3 linked regions of the Homo sapiens genome follow. The protein of the gene in region 1 purifies or fractionates together with the protein of each later gene. This does not show direct contact. Each region holds a gene or a part of one and is shown in the gene's direction. Other genes may lie near its edges.

The links.
Region 2: the proteins of NAPB (region 1) and TMEM230 fractionate together in Homo sapiens (co-fractionation; one large-scale study listed by BioGRID). This does not show direct contact.
Region 3: the proteins of NAPB (region 1) and CEP43 purify together in Homo sapiens (co-immunoprecipitation; one large-scale study listed by IntAct). This does not show direct contact.

What each region holds. Positions count from the first base shown.
Region 1 is NC_000020.11:23,376,400-23,380,055, reverse strand, and holds part of NAPB (beta-soluble NSF attachment protein), read left to right. Parts: intron 1-120; coding exon 121-189; intron 190-560; coding exon 561-611; intron 612-2,569; coding exon 2,570-2,680; 3' UTR 2,681-3,656. UniProt on the Homo sapiens protein: Required for vesicular transport between the endoplasmic reticulum and the Golgi apparatus.
Region 2 is NC_000020.11:5,103,024-5,106,679, reverse strand, and holds part of TMEM230 (transmembrane protein 230), read left to right. Parts: intron 1-369; coding exon 370-492; intron 493-3,656.
Region 3 is NC_000006.12:167,002,397-167,006,052, forward strand, and holds part of CEP43 (centrosomal protein 43), read left to right. Parts: intron 1-796; coding exon 797-851; intron 852-1,326; coding exon 1,327-1,415; intron 1,416-1,867; coding exon 1,868-2,005; intron 2,006-3,656. UniProt on the Homo sapiens protein: Required for anchoring microtubules to the centrosomes. Required for ciliation.

The sequences.
Region 1 (3,656 bases):
AACTACATACTTTTTCAACACTTAATAGGATATAGGTAGATCTTATTTGAAGCTGATAGAATGTTGAAAGCTTTGTTTGTTTAGTAAGTCTGAAATTGATGAGTGGTTTTTCTCTCTCAGCTTGCTCTTGAGAAATATGAGGAAATGTTTCCAGCATTTACTGATTCAAGAGAATGTAAATTATTGAAAGTAAGTAATATTAGAACTTTGAAGAAAAATGCTTTTGTTCTGTTAGGTGACAACACCTAAGTGGGATTGGGTATGAAGTGAAGTTTTAATCTATAAAGTCTGCTAACTGAGGGGCCCTGGTACTTTCCTGCTTTCGTATTATAGGTGTTCAAATGCAATTAAGGTCAGAAACATGTAGTTGTGTTCTGAAATAGGCACCTGAGAAATGTTACTACAGAAGCTAGATCCCTAACTTGGCTCTTGACTTGTATATGAGTATTTCCTCAGTTTTGTGCAATATTTGGCAACATTGGTATTATACTTAAAGTATATATTTAGAAATGGGACTTCATCTTACAGAACTGTTTTTTAAAATATTTTTATGCTACCAGAAACTCCTAGAAGCTCATGAAGAACAGAACAGTGAAGCTTACACTGAAGCAGTAAGTTATGCTTTTGGGACATGGTACATTATTTGAAGATTTAAGTTAAAGAAACTTCTTTTCCTTTTCATTATGTGAATTCTAAACATTTATTTGAACATGACTCCAGCATACCTTAAGTTGTATTTTCCAAACGTCACCTTTTATATATCACACAAATTAAACAGTTCCATTAGCCATGCTGAGATTCGACTTACACTCAAAACTAATTTAGCTGTGAGACTAGTTCAGGAGCAAATATTCCATTTATATTCTTATAATTTGCTGTTTTAATTTTTTCTTTTGAAAATAATCTGACCCATAAATAAGTATAAAGTAAAATTAGTTAAGGCCAGGCACGGCGTCTCACACCTGTAATCCTGGCACTTTCGGAGGCCGAGGCAGGCAGATCATGAGTCAGGAAATTGAGACCATCCTCGCCAACATGGTGAAACCCCGTCTCTACTAAAAATATAAAAATTAGCCAGGCATGCTGGCACACGCCTGTAGTCCCAGCTACTCGGGAGGCTGAGGCAGGAGAATCGCTTGAACCCGGGAGGCAGAGGTTGCAGTGAGCTGAGATTGCACCACTGCACTCCAGCCTGGTGACAGAGCGAGACTCTGTCTCAAAAAAAAAAAGAAAAAAAAAATTAAATATAATTTAAAATATAAAAACTAAGTAGTGAGAATTTGCTGTATTTGTGGCATGAAATAAATGGAAGGTGGCCAGGCACGGTGGCTCACACCTATAATCCTAGCACTTTGGGAGGCCAAGGCGGGTGGATCACCTGAGATCAGGAGTTTGAGACCAGCTTGGCCAACATGGCAAAACACCATCTTTACTAAAAATACAAAAATTAGCCAGGCATGGTGGAGTGTGCCTGTAATACCAGCTACTCGGGAGGCTGAGGCAGGAGAATCTCTTGAACCCAGGAGGTGGAGGTTGCAGTGAGCCAAGATCACGCCATTGCATTCCAGCCTGGGCAACAAGAGTGAAACTCCATCTCAAAAATAAATAAATAAATAATAAATATATATATATATTAAAAATATGAGGGTTTTTTTCTTTATACTTTTTGTTTTTCCATCTTTTGCCATCTCATGTTTAGAATCAAGCAAAAAAAAATGTTTTTATATATTTTGAAACAGATCCTCACTCTGTCACTCAGGCTGGAGTGCTGTGGTGTGATCACGGCTCACTGCACCCTCAACCTCCTGGGTTCAGGTGATCCTCCCACCTGAGACTCCTAAGTACCTGGGACTACAGGTGCACACCACCACCCCCAGCTAATTTTTTTTTTTTTTTTTGCATTTTTTGTTGAGACAAGGTTTCACCATGTTGCCCAGGCTGGTCTCTTAACTCCTGGGCTTAAGCTATCCACCTGCCTTGGCCTCCCAGACTTCAAGGATTACAGGCATGAGCCACTACATCCAGCCTCAAGCAAATTTCTCAGTAGCCTCCTGTAACATGTTCATCACAGCTCAGGAGTGATAGAGGAAAGGAATGTTTTCCTGTCTGACTTTTGCCTACCACATCATTTTCATCCTATTGTAATTTTATTTTTGGGTAATGCATTGAAATGTGTTAATTCCGCTTCCATACATATTCTAACTCTGTAATTAATGTTTTCCCATGTTCAGTGAGTATTAATTTTCCATATTCCTTTCAAATTTTTATACAATATCCAGTTACTTTTGCCACAATAATTATGACTGTTAATGAATTTTTTTCTTACACGTTTGAAAACAGAGAAATGTCAAGCCCAGGAACTTGTCACTAGTATCAAAATAGTAACAGGATAATGAAAAAATAAACAATTTTTTAATGAAGAAAGTTATAAACTGGAATGATTAATTTCAAATGATGAAGAAAGTTAGTAGATTATGGCTGTAAAGGTATAAACAGCTTGGGGTACTATTATTTTGTGTTTTTAATGTATTTACATGGGGTAATTCCTGTTCCTCTTTCCTTATACTAGGTGAAGGAATTTGACTCAATATCTCGCTTGGATCAGTGGCTGACCACCATGTTGCTTCGCATCAAAAAGTCCATCCAAGGGGATGGAGAAGGAGATGGAGACCTAAAATGAAATGTTTTTGTCTTTGTGGCATGCAGCTAACTCCTCTTTAGTTTTGTCTTAGGGTCAAGTGATCTTTATGGGATGCCTATTTAATGGCTTAATTTTGTTGCATATGAGCCAGACGGCCTGTGTATTGTTTAAGCTCGCCAAGTCTGTGTTGCTGTGAAATGAATGAAGGAGAGGCTCCTGTTCATCTTGTGGTAATGATGGGTTGTTTCATGCTTATCAGAACCCCCAGCGTTTTCTGAGAAGTACTTCAGAATCTCATTCCTCATATTTCATTGGTATTTGTGGAGCCTATGTTTAATGTTGCCACGTGTTTTTATGTCCTTTTTGTTGGACTTGAGTACTCAGCCCAGTTGTTCTCATAGATGCTTTGCATTTTCTCTGTGCTTTGGCATCTGAATATGTTCTTTAAATGTGTGTTTAGTTTAGGACAGTTACTAGGAATGAGTTTATAACTTCATTAGAAATCATTTCTATTTTTGTTATCCTGTGATTATTTTGATGGTGCTAGTGACTAGTTTCTTTGCTTTTTGTGTTGTTCCGTATGCTAACATGTGCATGGCAAAAATTTAGAATAGCCAGGGTCTGTAGGCATCACATTGTGAGGAAGGGAGCTTTCTGGAAGTACTTGCTTCATGTATGGATGAGTGTCAAAGTGAATTTGATTTGTACTTAGACACACGCGTTTACACACACACACATATCACAAGATCTGTTAGAAATGGAATTTTTCTCTTTTTCTGGAGATAGTTTTCACTTTTAGTTGGAGTGGAAATCCCTTTATATTTACATTGAAGTATTTTAATTGGCATAGCCTGCTCATTATTTTCATGTTTATACACTTTCCCACGTTGAGGTGGTGTGTTCTGTGCTGTGACTATAGAAATCTTGGTCAGGGCTGGATAGATTATCTAAGTCAAGCTTGAGAATGAATGTATGTAATTTTCCTGTTTATTGTACATGATGGGTTAGGTGGGGT
Region 2 (3,656 bases), about 18 Mb from region 1:
ATGCCAGCACTTTGGGAGGCCGAGGCGGGCGGATCACCTGAGGTCAGGAGTTCAAGCCCAGCCAGGTCAACAAGGTGAAACCCTGTCTCTACTAAAAATACCAAAAAAATTAGCTGGGTGTAGTGGCGGGCACCTGTAACCCCAGCTGCTCAGGAGGCTGAGACAGGAGAATCACTTGAATCCAGGAGGCAGAGGTTGCAGTGAGCCAAGATCACGCCATTGCTCTCTAGCCTGGGCAACAAGAACGAAACTCCATCTCAAAACAAACAAACAAAAACATAAAAATTACAAATAATTAATTAAATGTTTGAACCCAGGTATTTGCATTAATGTTCTTCGTTGTCTTTTTCATCTCTATTTCTCTTCCAGTTTAAGAAAACCCCTCCTAAGATCCCTTATAAGGCCATCGCACTTGCCACTGTGCTGTTTTTGATTGGCGCCTTTCTCATTATTATAGGCTCCCTCCTGCTGTCAGGCTACATCAGCAAAGGGGTAAGCTGACGGGCATGTGGGAATAAGTTGTGAGATTTTTAAAATGTTAGCCAAGGCTCTAGTGTGCGTGTGTGTGTGTGTGTGTGTGTGTGTGTGTGTGTGTGTGTGTTTGTCCGTCCCAGTGGTCTGTTTTTTTTGAGACAGGGTCTTGCTCTGTCATCCAAGCTAGAGTGCAGTGGCACAACCTTTACCTCCCTGGGCTCAAGCGATCCTCTCACCTCAGCCTCCCGAGTAGCTGGGACTACACGTGTGTGCCACCACACCCAGCTAATTTTATTTTTTATTTACTTATTTTTGTTTGTTTTATTTTGTGTAGAGACAGGGTTTCACTATGTTGCCCAGGCTGATCTCTAACTCCTGAGGTCAAGCAGTCTGCCTGCCTCAGCCTTCCAAAGTGCTGGGATTGCAGGTGTGAACCATTGCCCCTGGCCAATTTTTTTTCCAATTTTTATGGGTACATAGTAGGTGTATATACTTAGGGGATACATGAGGTATTTTGATACAGCCATGCATTCATAATAATCACATCAGGCTAAATGGGGTATCCATCCCCTCAAGCATTCATCATTTGTATTACATTCCAATTATACTTTTATTTATTTATTTATTTTGAGACAGAGTCAGGCTGGAGTGCAGTGGCATAATATCGGCTAACTGCAACCTCCGCCTCCCAGGTTCATGCTATTCTTGTGCCTCAGCCTCCCGAGTAGCTGGAATTACAGACGTGCGCCACCGCACCCGGCTAATGTTGGTATTTTTAGTAGAGATGGGGTTTCGCCATGTTGCCCAGGCTGGCCTCCCAAAGTGTTGGGATTACAGGCATGAACCACTGTGCCTGGCCTATTTTTAGTTATATATATACATATACACATACATACATACATACATATATATATATTTTGGAGACAGAGTCTTGTTCTGTCACCCAGGCTGGAGTGCAGTGGCAGGATCTCAGCTCACTGCAAACTCCGGCTCGTGGGTTCAAGTGATTCTCCTGCCTCAGCCTCCTGAGTTAGCTGGGACTATGGTGGCAAGCCAGCACACTTGGCTTATTTTTGTATTTTTAGTAGAGATGGGTTTTTGCCATGTTGGCCAGGCTGGTCATGAACTCCTGACCTCAAGCGGCCTGCCCGCGTGGGCCTCCTAAAGTGCTGGGATTACAGGCGTGAGCTACCACGTCCAGCCTTAGTTATTATATTTTTAAATGTACAATAAATTATTCTCTAGTCACTTTGTGCTATCAAATACTAGAGCTTATTCATTCTATGTAACTATATTTTGTACCCGTTAACCTTCCCCATTCCCCCCTACCTTTCCCAGCCTTTGGTAACCATCATTCTACAATATCCATGAGTTCAATTGTTTTAATTTTTAGTTCCCGCAAATGAGTGAGAACATGGAAAGTGTGTCTTTCTGTGCCTGGCTTAATTTCACTTAACATAACGTTCTCCAGTTTCATCCATGTTGTTGCAAGTGACAGGATCTCATTCTTTTTAGTGGCTGAATAGTACTCCATTGCATATATGTACCATATTTTCTTTATTCACTTGTCTGTTGAAGAACACTTTGGTTGCTTCCAGATCTTGGCTGTTGTGAATAGTGCTGTCATAAATATGGAAGTGCAGATACCTCTTTGATAAACTGATTTCCTTTCTTTTGGGTATATACCTAGCTGTGATTGCTGGATCATATGGTAGTTCTATTTCATACTGTTCTCCATAGTGGCTATACTAATTTACATTCCCATCAACATTGTACGAGGGTTCCCTTTTCTCCACGTCCTCGCTAGCATTCGTTATTGCCGTTTTTTTTGGATAAAAGCCATTTTGGCTGGGTGCAGTGGCTCACGCCTGTAGTCCCAGCACTTTTGGAGGCCGAGGCAGGAGGATCACTTGAGCCCAGGAGTTCGAGACCAGCCTGCGCAACATAGCGAGACCTTGTGTCTATATTTTTTAAAAAGCCATTTTAACTAGGATGAGATGATATCTCATTGTAGTCTTGATTTGCATTTCTTTGATCAATGATGTTAAGCACCTTTTCATATACCTATTTGCCATTTGTATGTCTTCTTTTGAGAAATGCCCATTTTTGATTGGATTATTAGATTTTTTTTCCTACAGAGTTTGAGCTCCTTATATATTCTGGTTATTAATTCCTTGTCAGATGGATACTTTGCATATATTTTTTCCCATTCTGTGGGTTGTCTCTTCCTTTGCTGTACAGAAGCTTTTTAACCGGATGTGATCTCATTTATCTGTTTTTGTTTTGGTTGCTTGTGCTTTTGGGGGCATTACTCAAGAAATCTTTGCCCAGTCCAGCATCCTGGAGAGTTTCCCCCATGTTTTCTTATAGTAGTTTCATAGTTTTAGGTCTTACATTTAAGTGTTTAATCCATTCTCATTTGATTTTTGTATATGTCAAGAGATTTGAGGGGTCTAGTTTCATTCTTCAGCATATGGATATCCAGTTTTCCTAATACCATTTATTGAAAAGACTGGTTCTTTCCCCAGTGTATGTTTTTTTGTTTTTTGGTTTTTTTGTTTGTTTTTTTTTTTTTGAGACAGAATCTCACTGTGTCATCCAGGCTGGAGTGCAGTGGCACCATCTCGGCTCACTGCAACCTCAGCCTCCCAAATAACTGGGACCACAGGCATGTGCCACCACACTTGGTTAATTTTTTTTTCATTTTTTGTATAGATGAGGTTTTGCCGTGTTGCCCAGGCTGATCTCGAACTCCTAGACTCAAGCAGTCCAGGAGTACAGTGGTGTGATCACAGCTCTCTGCAACCTCAATCTTCAGGGCTCAGTCGATCCTCCCACCTCAGCTTCCCAAGTAGCTGGAGTTACAGGTGTGAGTCACCATACCTAGCTAATTTTTTTGTTTGTTTGGTAGAGATGAGATCTCATTATGTTGCCCAGGCTGGTCTTAAACTCCTAGGCTCAAGCAATCCTCCTGCCTCAGCCTCCCAAAGTGCTGGAATTACAGGCTTTAGCCACTGCACCCCTCTGACTATGTTTCCCGTTGTGTGTTAATTATGGTCAGTGTGAGGCCCACCCTAGCCTCCCAAAGTACTGGGATTACAGGCGTGAGCCACCACACCCGGTGGATGTAGAATTTTATCAAATGCTTTTCTAGCATCGATTGAAATAATCATATGGTTTTT
Region 3 (3,656 bases), on another chromosome or scaffold:
TCCAGTTTTTGAGTATTACAAATAAGGTTTCTGTGAACAGTCACATACAAGTCTTTGCTTGGATCTGTGATTTCTCTTGAGAAAATATGTAGAGGTGAAGTGACTAGGTCACATGCTAGGAATATTTGTGACTTTTAAGAAACACTACCAAATTGCTGTCCAAACTCGTTATGCCATTTTGCATTCCCATCAGCAGTGTATGAGGCTGCCACTGTAGCAGCAATTAATGTGGTCTTAAGGAAGCTTACCATGTGCTACCTACTGTAGCCTCTTCTCAGCAACAATCACAGGCTTGATGGTCTAGAAGTATTTTTTCCATACTTATTCAAATAAATGTATAATTACAAAAATAAGTTGGCCTATGGGCCGCATAAGATCATCTCACATTTCATGGATAAACTGGGAATTACAAGTGTATAATTAAATTCCTGTTCATAGTAAGTATGCTATAAATGGTAGATACCTGAGATGACAAAACTTTTATCAAACTTCATGTATTTGAAATAATAAACAGTTGTTGACATTTAATTGTATTTCACACAGGTATTTGAAAATATCTAGCTTCAAAAGCAGTTTATAAAACATTTAAAAATTAAAAATACAAATCTTCATATATGGTTTTGTTATATTAACTTTGAGAAATTACTAAATAGCACAAAGTAAGTCCTGTAGTAATTAACAGTTGTAGAATGGATTTTGTAAAACCATAATTTTATCAATGAAAACGTTAAACTTTATATTTTGTAGTTGTTTTTAGGGTAAACACATGACACTTAAATTTTTTTTTTTTTAACAGAACAAAACTCCTTTAGTTAATGAGAGCCTGAAAAAGTTTTTAAATACCAAAGACGGTAAGATGTTCAGTTTGTTCTTGTTTATCTATCTCTGAATTTTTGAATCTTGATACCATTTGGGAGAAATCAGGAATTTCAGGGCTTTTTTTTTGTCTTCAATTGTTATAGGTCCTCATTTTAAAATAATATTTTATTGTACAACAATCGTGTTGCTATTACATATTTTTGGATTTGGGATGTTGTTGCTTAAAGCCAGTTTTACTACAAAAAGCCAATATTAACCATTAAAAAGCGAAACACTGAAATCTATGAGATGATTGTCTTACAGTTAGTTACAGACTGATGATCCCAGTGAAAAAATCAGGAGATTGAGATTTTCATTACTTAATCATATTATTCAAAGAGGAAATTTGTAACTTAAAAAATTTAGAAACCTTTCTTCCATTAATTTAGTGTATCTATTTCATAATGTTAATTTAAAAAATTCAGTTTTTGAAGATTTGCTTACTTACCTTTTTCTTGATCTTTATAGGTCGTTTAGTGGCTAGTCTTGTTGCAGAATTTCTTCAGTTTTTTAACCTTGACTTTACTTTGGCTGTTTTTCAACCTGAAACTAGCACAGTAAGAATAATGATTTTTACATCTATCTTTTGAAACCTTTGATACAAATGAGTTAATATTAAGCTGAAAGTTAATAGAATTTGACAACTGATAGTTTTTTACATTTAGATTATTTTTGGTAGTTGATTATCTGTTTTTCTTAAAAGCCATATGAGCTTTCAGATAGCTGGCACCAGTGTTGCTGCTTTGTGTTACTTGAAAGCTTGCTAATAAAAGTGTTACTATAGAGTTAATTTTGATACGATGTTAGAGTGCACCTGTTAATGGAAACGTTGAAGGTAGAGGCTCTGTAAAAGAAATAGGCATAATTTTTTAAAATAGACATTTCATTCATTAGTAAGACAGTCTCTTTGAGTTTAAAGATGTCTTTAAACTCTGAAAATATCTTCTTTACTCCTTGAGAATAACTTCTGCTATTTTTTTGTGCACTTGTATTTTAACTTCTTTTCTAGCTGCAAGGTCTCGAAGGTCGAGAGAATTTAGCCCGAGATTTAGGTATAATTGAAGCAGAAGGTACTGTGGGTGGACCCTTATTATTAGAAGTGATCAGGCGCTGTCAACAGAAAGAAAAAGGGCCAACCACTGGGGAAGTAAGTAGAATTCTGTGTTATCTTTTTCTATTTTAATTATTGGCTGCTTAGTTTAGCCATGCAGATTAGTGCATATATAGTAAATTAAGGTTTTCATACTAGAAGATATTCCTTAAAAACAAAATGAGATGCATTCAGATTGTATCAATGCAAATTTTAATGAAAATTAGGAATGTGCTGACTGTGATTCTGTGGCATATCTGTTCTGGTTTTTGATCCTCAAGAGTGTTGGGTCATGAGCTAAACTGTCTGGAACAAATCCCAACTCCTCGTTGCCTCACTTGATCCTCCATTCATTCCATACTGTGTATGAAGTGGGCTCTACCAGGCCCTACCTTGGTGTTCTGAGGCTTCTCTGCATAAGCCAACAGAAGCACTCAACTTGCTATTATTTTTATTAAAACATCTTATTTAAATATAAAAGGGCTGATTTATAGGATAGTTAATAAATTTTTGGACTTAAAGGCCTCTTTAGGCTTAAAACTAAGCTGTTGATTTTGCTTTACGCTGTTTAGAAACAGTTCAAACTTACACTTTTTTGATCAGTAGTACTTTTCATACTCTTAACCTTTTTTTAGAAATTGTGCTAATGAGATTAATGATATAATTTTATTTTCATACATTAATTTTACATGAAGATACTCTGTTTTATAGATACAGGTAACATCTGTAACTGTTCCAGATATTTGATTAAATGTGAGCTTTTAGTCAGAAATTTATAGGTAAGAATGTGGAGGGCTGTATAGGTTTCCAGTTATTTTCTTTGGTGAGTCTCAGAGGATGTTTTCTATTAGAATTTTTGAAAATTGATAAAGCTTGCCTGAGTACTAATTATGTGTAAGGCATGGTAAATAGACTTTGTGGGTACTATAAGATAAAATATAAGAAACTTCTGTGTCTCTGAATAGCGCAGAGCTATTTAAGATAAAATGTGCTCAAATAAGGAAATTAACATTTAAATAACAGTTTAAGATTATGGAGGAATTGTCATTTAACACATTATTTCCAACCATATTATGAATAGTTTAGAGGAGGAAGCGATTGTCACATGCCAAAATTTTATTGAAGTCAATTTTAAAGTGAGAGTAGGATGTCAGTTGTGGGGCGAGGATTGGGAAGGGCTTTCCGAGAAGTTGGAACGGTGCCAGCCAAGCGTGGGAGCAGGAGAGCATAGCCAGATCCCAGGCTGGCTGGGAGTGAGGCGGCTCACCCAGAGCGCAGGTTGTCACTTCAGCTTGTGCATATAATTTCATTCCTTCATTTATCAATATCCAGCAAGCTTTTATTGTGCGCTTATTTGATAGATACTGTGCTGGGTACTGGGCAATCAAAAACAAACTAAAGAACCCAGTCTCCTGGGGCCAGCAGTCTGTAGGTCATGATGACCTCTCTTTATTGGCTTTCCCCTCTCGGCTTCTGTGGCCCTGAAGAACTCTCTTCTCTTTCTAACTGCCCTTTCATTTTCTTTTCTGTTTAGTAGTTGTGCTTTGGCTCACCTCATTGCAGTGGTGTTTATGCATATTTTTCTGTCTAGATTGATCTTTCTTCCTTAACATACCACTAGCATGGACTCTGGAACCAGGTTACTTGGGTGAAACCCCAGCTCTGCTACATTCTAGCTCTGTGAGCCTGCAGTCACTCAGCCTCCGTG